2 separate regions of the Homo sapiens genome follow, and region 2 is linked to region 1. Evidence: fine-mapped expression QTL. A gene starts in region 1. The other region holds a variant in brackets. All regions are shown on one strand. Distances are between the middles of the regions.

The links. PIP is the estimated chance that this variant, and not a neighbour inherited with it, causes the effect. A credible set is the group of variants that fine-mapping cannot tell apart.
Region 2: its variant is the best candidate, but not a certain one, in a credible set for the expression of ATXN1 in whole blood (TOPMed, PIP 0.82).

What each region holds. Positions count from the first base shown.
Region 1 is chr6:16,759,425-16,763,683 of GRCh38, forward strand. It overlaps ATXN1 (ataxin 1), which reads right to left and starts at 2,036. Exons shown (of 8, transcript NM_001128164.2): 1 at 1,874-2,036. It overlaps ATXN1-AS1 (ATXN1 antisense RNA 1), which reads left to right and starts at 1,714. Exons shown (of 3, transcript NR_136240.1): 1 at 1,714-1,742; 2 at 2,695-2,855; 3 at 2,928-4,259. RefSeq lists silencers at 444-803, 814-1,293, 1,364-1,493, 1,970-2,129, 2,137-2,352 and 1 more and an enhancer at 2,490-3,689.
Region 2 is chr6:16,347,539-16,352,053 of GRCh38, forward strand. The region is part of intron 6 of ATXN1 (ataxin 1); the gene reads right to left. Among named protein-coding and RNA genes, the nearest start is that of GMPR, 110 kb to the left of the region's middle. The variant C/T (reference allele first, on the strand shown) is at 1,929.

The DNA.
Region 1 (4,259 bases):
CAGTTTGGAGGAGTCCCTACTGCACAGCATACGGTAAACAAAATAAAAATAGCTTGCCTTTCTTGTTAGCCACATCGCGCATTATATAACCAGCTTCTTCCGACTGTTTTTTTTTTTTTTTTTTTTTTTTTTTTGCCCTTACTACTCTTCAGCAATTTCCCTCTTCTCAAATATTTATATTACCCTTTTATCTGTAGGATTATATACCAAGAAAGCAAAACAAAACAGAGCAGCCACGGGCTCGAACCGAATCCCCGCCGTCCTTAGAAACGGATTTTTTTTTGTTTTGTTTTGTTTTCTGGCAGAGTCTCGATCACCACCCTACTTCCACCCCCACTAAGGTTCTTGCTCAATCTCCCTAGAAAACCTGAATTGTTTCATCCCTTTCAGTCAGCCCCCTACGTGGTCTGAAACAAAATGAAAGCACAAGCCACGGAGTTTAAGAAGGCAGCCTGAAGGCGGGGGGCTGAAGAGGGGTCGGGGCGCTGCAGAGTCAGCCAAGTAGCCAAGGAAGGGCCCCCTCCGCGTCGCGACGGCCCTCGCCCCCCGCCCGGCGCGCGCGCGCACAAATACACACACACAGTCACTCACACACTCACTCACACTCACGCCGCGCTCCGACACCGCCTCACCTCTCGCTCCGCCCGTCCGGCCCCCTTCCCTGCCCCCTGCGGGACCGGCCTGCGCGCAGCACTGGAACCACGTAGGAGGAGGCGGCGGCGCCCCCGGGAGTGGCAGAGTCTCCGGCCCGGCCCAGAGTGAACGAGCAGTGGGGCTCCAGGGCGCATCCCAATCCCCGCAGCGCCTCCTCCGCGGCGGCCGCCGCCTCCTCCTCCTTCCCCTCCTCCTGGCTTCATTCACCCTCCCAGCAGCCGCGCAGCCGTTCACTCCCGGCTCAGGGCAGCGCCTGCCGCGGCTCCTCGTCTCCTGCCGCGGGTGCTGGCGGGGGCGCCGGCCCGGACTGGGGCGCTCGCGGGCTCCCGGCTCCGGGCGGCGGCTGCCGCTGCACATGATCAGGAAGCGGCCGCACCAACAGGGCGGCGGTGGCGGCGGCGGCCAGGGCCGTCACCGCCACTCCAGCCGCGCTCCAGGCACCCGCACACCCGCTACCCCCGCGCGGTCCCCGAGGCCACCCCTCTGCGCCCCCCGCCCGGCACCCGGCCGCGCGCAAAGTCCCGTCCCGGCTGCAGGAGCAGTCCCTTCCCCGCCCGCAGCCGCACACCCGGCGAGGCCGGCCCTCCGAGGGGAGACCCCCGCCCCAGGGCGCCGAGGCCGGGCGACCACCCGCGGAGAAGTCCAGCCCTCCGTGAGACCCCCTCTCTCTCACCGCCCTCTCCGGGGAGGAGGAATGGGAAGAGGGCGGCCGGGAAAGGGACCACCCCCCAACCCCAGCCGCCGCCTCCCCCCTGCGCCACCCGGAGGGAGGAGGACATGGCTCTCCGCACTTGCGACCGGACCAGCAGCCGGGGGAGCGGGGCGCCGCCGCCGCTCTCCCCGCCCGCGCCCCCCGCCCGGGCGCGCCCCCTAGCCCGGCGGGCGCCCACCCAGCCCCTGACAGCCCCCCCGCCGGCCGCCCCTGCGCCCAGAGTGGGGGTGTCGGCCCGGGAGCCTGGAGCCGGGGACGGTTGTATGTACACACATACACACACACACACACACACACGCACACACACAGAACACGACGCGTCGATTTCCTTCGCTCCTCTTCCAGCTGTTTTCCGTGCAGCCGATTGGGGTTTTGGGTTTGTTTGCTGGTTGTTGCTTTTGCCCCTCTCGGGAGATCGGGGGAGGAGGGATTTTAATCTAAATAAGGGGAGAAGGGAATGGGGGAGGGGGGAAAGAATCGGAGGAGGAAAAAAAAATAGTCACTTACTGTAAAGTGTAAATGGATCTGGGGTTGCGTGGGGAAGGGGGGGCAGAGGGAGAGAAACAATGTCTTGCGGCTGCTGTTGCTCTGGCTGCTGCTCCACGGGGCTTGTTTTGGATCCCCCTGCAGTGAAACAGGTCCTGTACGGCTCCGCCACTGTAGTAGAAATGATGTCTGCGGTATACTCTGCTCTCTCCTCCTCCTCCTCCTCCTCCTCCTCCCCCTCCTCCCGCTCCCCTCCCCTCCCTCCTCCCTCCGCCCGCCCGCCCTCCCTCCCTCCCTCGCGCTCTCTCGCGCTCGCTCGCTCGCTCGCTCCAGTATGTAAATGTGTAATAGAAGCCAAATATGGAGCAGTTGGCTGCCGCCGCCGCAGCTCAAGGATCCGACTTCATGGGGGTGGGGGGCACCCTCTGGCGGGCGGCCCGGCGAGCCGCACAGAGCACGGCGAGCGCACCGCGCGGCGGCCGGCCCGCGCCCTTAACCCTTCGCTGCGCGCCGCCCGGGGAGGCGGGCACCTTTCCCAAAGAGTGGCTCGGGATGGGGTGCGGGGGAGGGGAGACGCGGACCGGAGGGCAAGGTTCCTTCCAGGTTTGGGAAGGGGGCGGGGAGCTGGGCGATGAGGTAATTTGAGCGGTGACGGGTCGGTCCTCGCGCGCCTCCCTGGGTCCCTGCACCTAGTTGGAGGGGACTGAACGACAACGGGGCGCTACTCAGGCAACCTGGGGGACTCCCCCAAGGGCTGTCAGGCTTCAGCTGGGAGCCGATGCAACACCCCAGCGGGGAGGGGAGGTCGGCCCATTCTAATCCCGACGTGTCCTTGGTCCCAGGCGCTCGGAGCAGCATCTGAGAGGGCTCACTCTGATCATCAGCTGCACGTTAAGCCACAAACCGGCGTCGCTTCGGCGTTCCGGAACCCAGGCCTGGGGGCCGCGGGGATTGCCTCTGCGTGCAACTCCGGAAAGTTTCAAGGGGTCCCCCGACTGCACAGGTACCCTCACCTTTCCTGCCGGCGAACGCTGGCGACCGCCCGACCCTGCCCTCTTTCTCTCTTCGCACGCAGGTCCGGAAATCGGCTTTGATATGGAACTACTCCGCTCTAGCCTGGAAAGGAGACCCGCGCACTCCTCTCGCAGCTAATTTCGGATCATTAATTTAATCGGAAATGAGGTAACCAGTGTAGGAGACAGAGAAAGCAACCGGAGCATCAAATGGCAGTTCTCGAGAATCGACGAGGAACTTAAATCTGGACTCAGGGTTTCAGTGCGGTCTCCGACTCCCACCACCCCGCCCCTCCGCCTGTCTCGCCGCCAGGTGTGACCTCCACGCGAAGGAATCTTCTTCGGATGGGTGCACCTTGCCAACAGGTGTGGCACCTGGAGGACTAGGAGGCGCCTCCAGACTAAGGGCGCTCAGTGCGGCGTTCTTGTTGCAGATGATTCTGGAAGGCCGGTAGGTGTCGGGCGACATTTGACCTTCTTCAGGTGCTTAGAACTAAGTGTCTGGAAACATGATCCTTTCGCGTAAGTTTCTTTCTGAAAGCCACCAATCTTGACTGTAAGCTGTATTTGAGAGATCTTTTGGCTGAGTTTACTTATGACCTAACGGTTAGTCACCAACTGAGGCAGGGCACAGGATGACCAAAAAAAAAGTGTCAGTTTTTACACAACTCTGGCCTGCAAGAGCCTACGTGCTTCATAAATAAAAATAAACATACGAGCGAGGAAGGTGCAGAGCCCCGGAAATATTTTTTTCTCACATTTTTGAAATACCATGCACATATATGTGGCTATTTAAGTATAACTACTAGTGTTCACTCTTACTCATTTCTACAACTTTTTTTTTTCCATTTAAAAATCGATTATTGTTACGGTTTAAACCTCGGGTTGGTCTAAAGTGACATTGTTGGTCTCATTACAGCCTCTAGTGGACAGTTAACATCAGTTTCCTGAAAAGGCTCTGACTGGTTTTGTTTTCGTTGACAAGCTTTGTCAAGGTGAAGGTTAGTACGTAAGAGCATAACCGGGTAAAATGTCCCCTCACCCCTATCCTCACCCCCGCCCCCAACACCCTGCTTGGCAAAGACGACTTCAGAAAGGAGCAGAAGCTTGTTGGCTTTATATAGAAAAGACGTATGCTTTGTGCTGCAGGTATTATTATTACTGGACTGTGAATAAACAGAAAGCTTCTGCTATTCATTTCAGTTTCAGACAGCTTTCATAAAAACTAAATTCATCTCAAATATTTTTATAACAGAAAATATTGGTTGCCATGTTTTTGGCTTAACTGCGATGTTTTTATTCCAACTCATAATCTGCAAACTGTCCAATCCACCTCCACTCTATTTTTAGACATCTTACATTTAGATAATTTTCAGTTAAAAAAAAGCTAATAT
Region 2 (4,515 bases), 410 kb before region 1:
AAGGTTTGTAAACACACCAATCAGCACCCTGTGTCTAGCTCAGGGTTTGTGAATGCACCAATCCACACTCTGTATCTAGCTACTCTGGTGGGGACTTGGAGAACCTTTGTGTCGACACTCTTTATTTAGCTAATCTAGTGGGGCCCTGGAGAACCTTTGTGTCTAGCTCAGGGATTGTAAATGCACCAATCAGTACCCTGTCAAAACAGACCACTGGGCTCTCTGTAAAATGGACCAATCAGCAGAACATGGGTAGGGCCAGATAAGAGAATAAAAGCAGGCTGCCCGAGCCAGCAGTGGTAACCTTCTCCGATCCCTTTCCACACTGTGGAAGCTTTGTTCTTTTTGTCTTTGCAATAAATCTTGCTGCTGCTGTTCACTCTTTGGATCTATACTGCCTGTATGAGCTATAACACTCACCGGAAAGGTCTGCAGCTTCATTCCTGAAGCCAGTGAGACCATGAACCCACAGGGAGGAATGAACAACTCCAGACATGCCGCTTTAAGAACTGTAACACTCACCGCAAGGGTCCACGGCTTAATTCTTGAAGTCAGTGAGACCAAGAACGCACCTAATTCTGGACACAGTAGCACAACCATAGTTTACTGTAGCCTCGACCTCCCTGTGCTCAAGTGATCCTCAGCTTCCTTAGTAGCTGGGATTACAGACTTGTGCCGCCACATCTAGCTACATTTTAAACTTTTTTATTCAGATAGGGTTTCATCACGCTGTGCAGGCTGGTCTCAAACTCCTGGGCTTAAGCGATCCTCCCATTTTGGCTTTCCATAGTGTTAGAATTACAGATATGAGCCACAGCACCGGGCCCATTCAACTTTCTAAGCTTTGATTTCCTCTTTAAGAAAATGAAGATAGTATGGCGAGGCACGGTGGCTCACACATATAATCCCAGCACTTTCAGAGGCCGAGGGGGGGCAGATCATGTGAGATCCAGAGTTCGAGACCAGCCTGGTCAATGTGGCAAAGCCCCGTCTCTACTAAAAATACAAAAAAAATTAGCCGGGCTTGGTGGTGAGTGCCTGTAATTCCAGGGAGGCTGAGGCAGAAGAATCACTTGAACCCGCGAGGTGGAGGTTGCAGCGAACCAAGATTGTACCATTGCACTCTAGCCTGGGCGACAGGAGTGAAACTCTGCCTTAGAAAAAAAAAAATGAAGATAGTAATACGCCTTATTTCATGAAGTTGTTATGAGAATTGCATGGGACAATTCAGTGCCTAGCATGCAAGCAGGCAGTAGTGCCTCAAAAAATGCTACCTCTCATGATGAACTGCTTTCCAGTTCAAACTACCTCCTATGACTGCTGCAGCAAACAGCACAGGCCTGGGATCTAGGCCACCTGATTTGGAATCCTGGTGGCCTTACTCCTCAGCTGTGTATATCTGATGCAAGTTAATTAATTTCTCTGATCTAAGTACTAACCAGGCCTAACTAATTCATTTCTCTGTGCCTCAGTTTGCTCATCTCCAAAGTGGGAATAATACTAGTTCCTACCCCACAGGCTTGCTGTGAGTTCACACATAAGAAGAATTTAGATGAGGGCCTGGCGTACTCAAGACCTACAATTACTGGCTGTGGTTGTTCCGATTATTTTCTAAGAAAGGCCCTCTTCTCTACCTCCTTCACTGTGGTCCTATTTTCATCTGCATAAAAAAATCACATTTTCAGGCTGGGCATGGTGGCTCACGCCTGTAATCCCAGCACTTTGGGAGGCTGAGGCTGGTGGATCACGAGATGAAGAGATCGAGACCATCCTGGCCAACATGGTGACATCTTGTTTCTACTAAAAATACAAAAATTAGCTGGGCATGGTGGCACGTGCCTGTAGTTCCAGCTACTCGGGAGGCTGAGGCAGAAGAATCACTTGAACCCGGGAGGCAGAGGTTGCAGTGAGCTGAGATCATGCCACTG[C/T]ACTCCAGCCTGGTGACAGAGCGAGACTGTGTCTCAAAAAAGAAAGAAAGAAAAAAAAAAAACACATTTTCCTCCCTAGAATTCTTTCTCAGGTTACTTCCTGCATCATAGACACCAGTCAGCTCCAGCAAAGATGGTGAATGGAATAATCTCTCATTAAAAGTTTCCCTGCCTCACTTCCCTTCATGAGGCATTTCAAGTCTTACCGGTTCAGAAAGTTTACTAAGTCTCTAAAATTGTCTTCTTTTAGAAAATACTCCACACTAGTGCACTGATTTTTTTTTCCCCCTAAACTGGACCAAAGCCTTGTTTGCAGAACAAATGGTCAATTACATCTACATTCAAAAATAAAATTCAAATGTGCTCATGTTTTCAATTTAAGTATGTCTGTTGTTTGCTGTTTATTCCTTTGGTATAAATAGAAGCTTTCTGGCTTATTTGAACGCAGAACACATAGTACACTGTTTAGATACAATTATTCATTATAAATTAAATCAATGCTTTTCCTTTTTAGAATACCATGCCCTAACTAGAATCTCTACAACATTATAAAAACATAAAATATGACTAACGATTTAATTTAAGGCCCTAATTCCCAATGAAAGATAAATAATGCTGCTGTAGGCACCAATGACTGTAATCTAAACAGGCAATAAAATATTTAATGGACAAGCGGAAATGCAAAAAAAGTAAGGCAGTCTCCTGTTTACAACAAAGCTCATTTTCTATACTAGCACTGTGGACGTGGAAGATGCAGTTAACCTCTGTAAGCCTCAGTTTCCTCATCTGGAATATGTGAATGATGATAATACGTTTTCAAAAGATTGTTGAGATGAAATAAAAGCAACTATAATGCCTAGCATAAGAAAAAAAATCCAGGTGTGTTCTTCTTCCTGAACTTCAGTCTCAGCTCAAGAGTCTGTGAGGAATTTCCACTTGGATGCTTACCACCCCTCTCAAATCAGCATGCACTCCGGTTCCATATTTCTGCTAACGGTTTTGCACCATTTCTCCAAGCATAGGCCAGAGCCTGATATTTGATACCTCTCTCGCACTTCACTCCTATATCCAGCGACTCCCCTAATTGTGTCAGTCTTTCTTCAAAATGTCTCAACTCTTGGGGTGAAGCTTGAAGTCTCTCTTTTTCCCATATTTACTGTGTAGGAAAGAATTTGGCTTTGGCCAAAGACGGGTCTGCCCTTTGCCCTTGGCTCCTGGGAAATGATCTATGTGATATCTGATAGTGGTGTCCCTATTTGTGGGGAGGGAAGGATTTTCAGTCACAGCAAATCACCGAACCCAAGCCTTGGTTTCCTCATTTTAAAATGGGAATTGGCTGGGTGTGGTGGCTCACACCTGTAATCCCAGCACTTCAGGAGGCCGAGGCAGGAGGACTATGTGAGGCCAGGAATTCGAGACCAGCCTGGGTAACAAAGTGAGGCCTGTCTCTACAAAATAATAAAAAAATTTAGGCAGGTGTGGTGGTGCATGCTTGCAGTCCCAGCAACTTGGGAGGCTGAGGTGGGAGGATTGCTTGAGCCTAGCCTGGGAGATCAAAGCTGCATTGAGCTGAGATCGCGGCACTGCACTCCAACCTGGGAGACAGAACAAGACCCTGTCTCAAAAAATAAAGAAAATGGAGATAATAACACGTACCCTACAGGGTTAGGGTGATGACTAAATGAGATGCATTCAACAAATGTGAGGTAGAAAAAACTTCTCTTATTCAGCAGGAACTTTATCAATGTTCATTTCTTTTTCTTTTATAATTATGAGAACATGAAGGAAATGGGCAGAGGATTCCAGCAGAATTCTGCCAAGATTTTCAGTCTTTTCCTGATTGGCAGCAGAGCATTTCCATTTTCATTTTGAGTTTTGCTGGTATTCTTCTACTAAGAAACCAATTTTTCCCCCAGTGAATGTTTTTTTAATTTCAGGGTTTTTTTTTTTTTTTGAAACAAGGTCTCACTCTGTCATACAGGCTGGAGTGCAGTGGCCCAATCTTGGCTCACTGTAGCTTCGACCTCCCAGGCTCAAGCCATCCACCCACCTCTGCCTCTTGAGTTGCTGGGACTACAGGCGCATGCCACCACGCCCAGCTAATTTTTGTAGTTTTTGTAGAGACGGGGTTTCACCATGTTGTCCAGGCTTGTCTTGAACTCTTGGGCTCAAGAGATCTGCCTGTCTCAGCCTCCCAAAGTGTTGGGATAACAGGCATGAGCTACCACACCCAGCCCATTCTTGAGTATGCTGGATCAATATTTCTCCTTGTAATGTAATTCCAACAGAAGGGAAACCAGGCCTCCTTTCAGTATCGCAGCTTGAGCCTGTCAGCATCCCCTGATTTCAGAACGTAGGCTACAAACAGTCCCAGATGTGTGCTGACGGTACTACATTCCTGGTCTTTCACAGCATTTACTTTGGATTGGGAAATGGGAAGTGAGGTCTCTCTTTCAGTATGAGATTATTTCTTAGAACAGGTTAGTTTGGCCTTTGCTAAAATATAAATAAGCAGAGGCTTCCATCAGAAAAACATCTGAGTGTTAAGTAGATAAATGCATCCCTTCAACATTGAGACATTTTATCT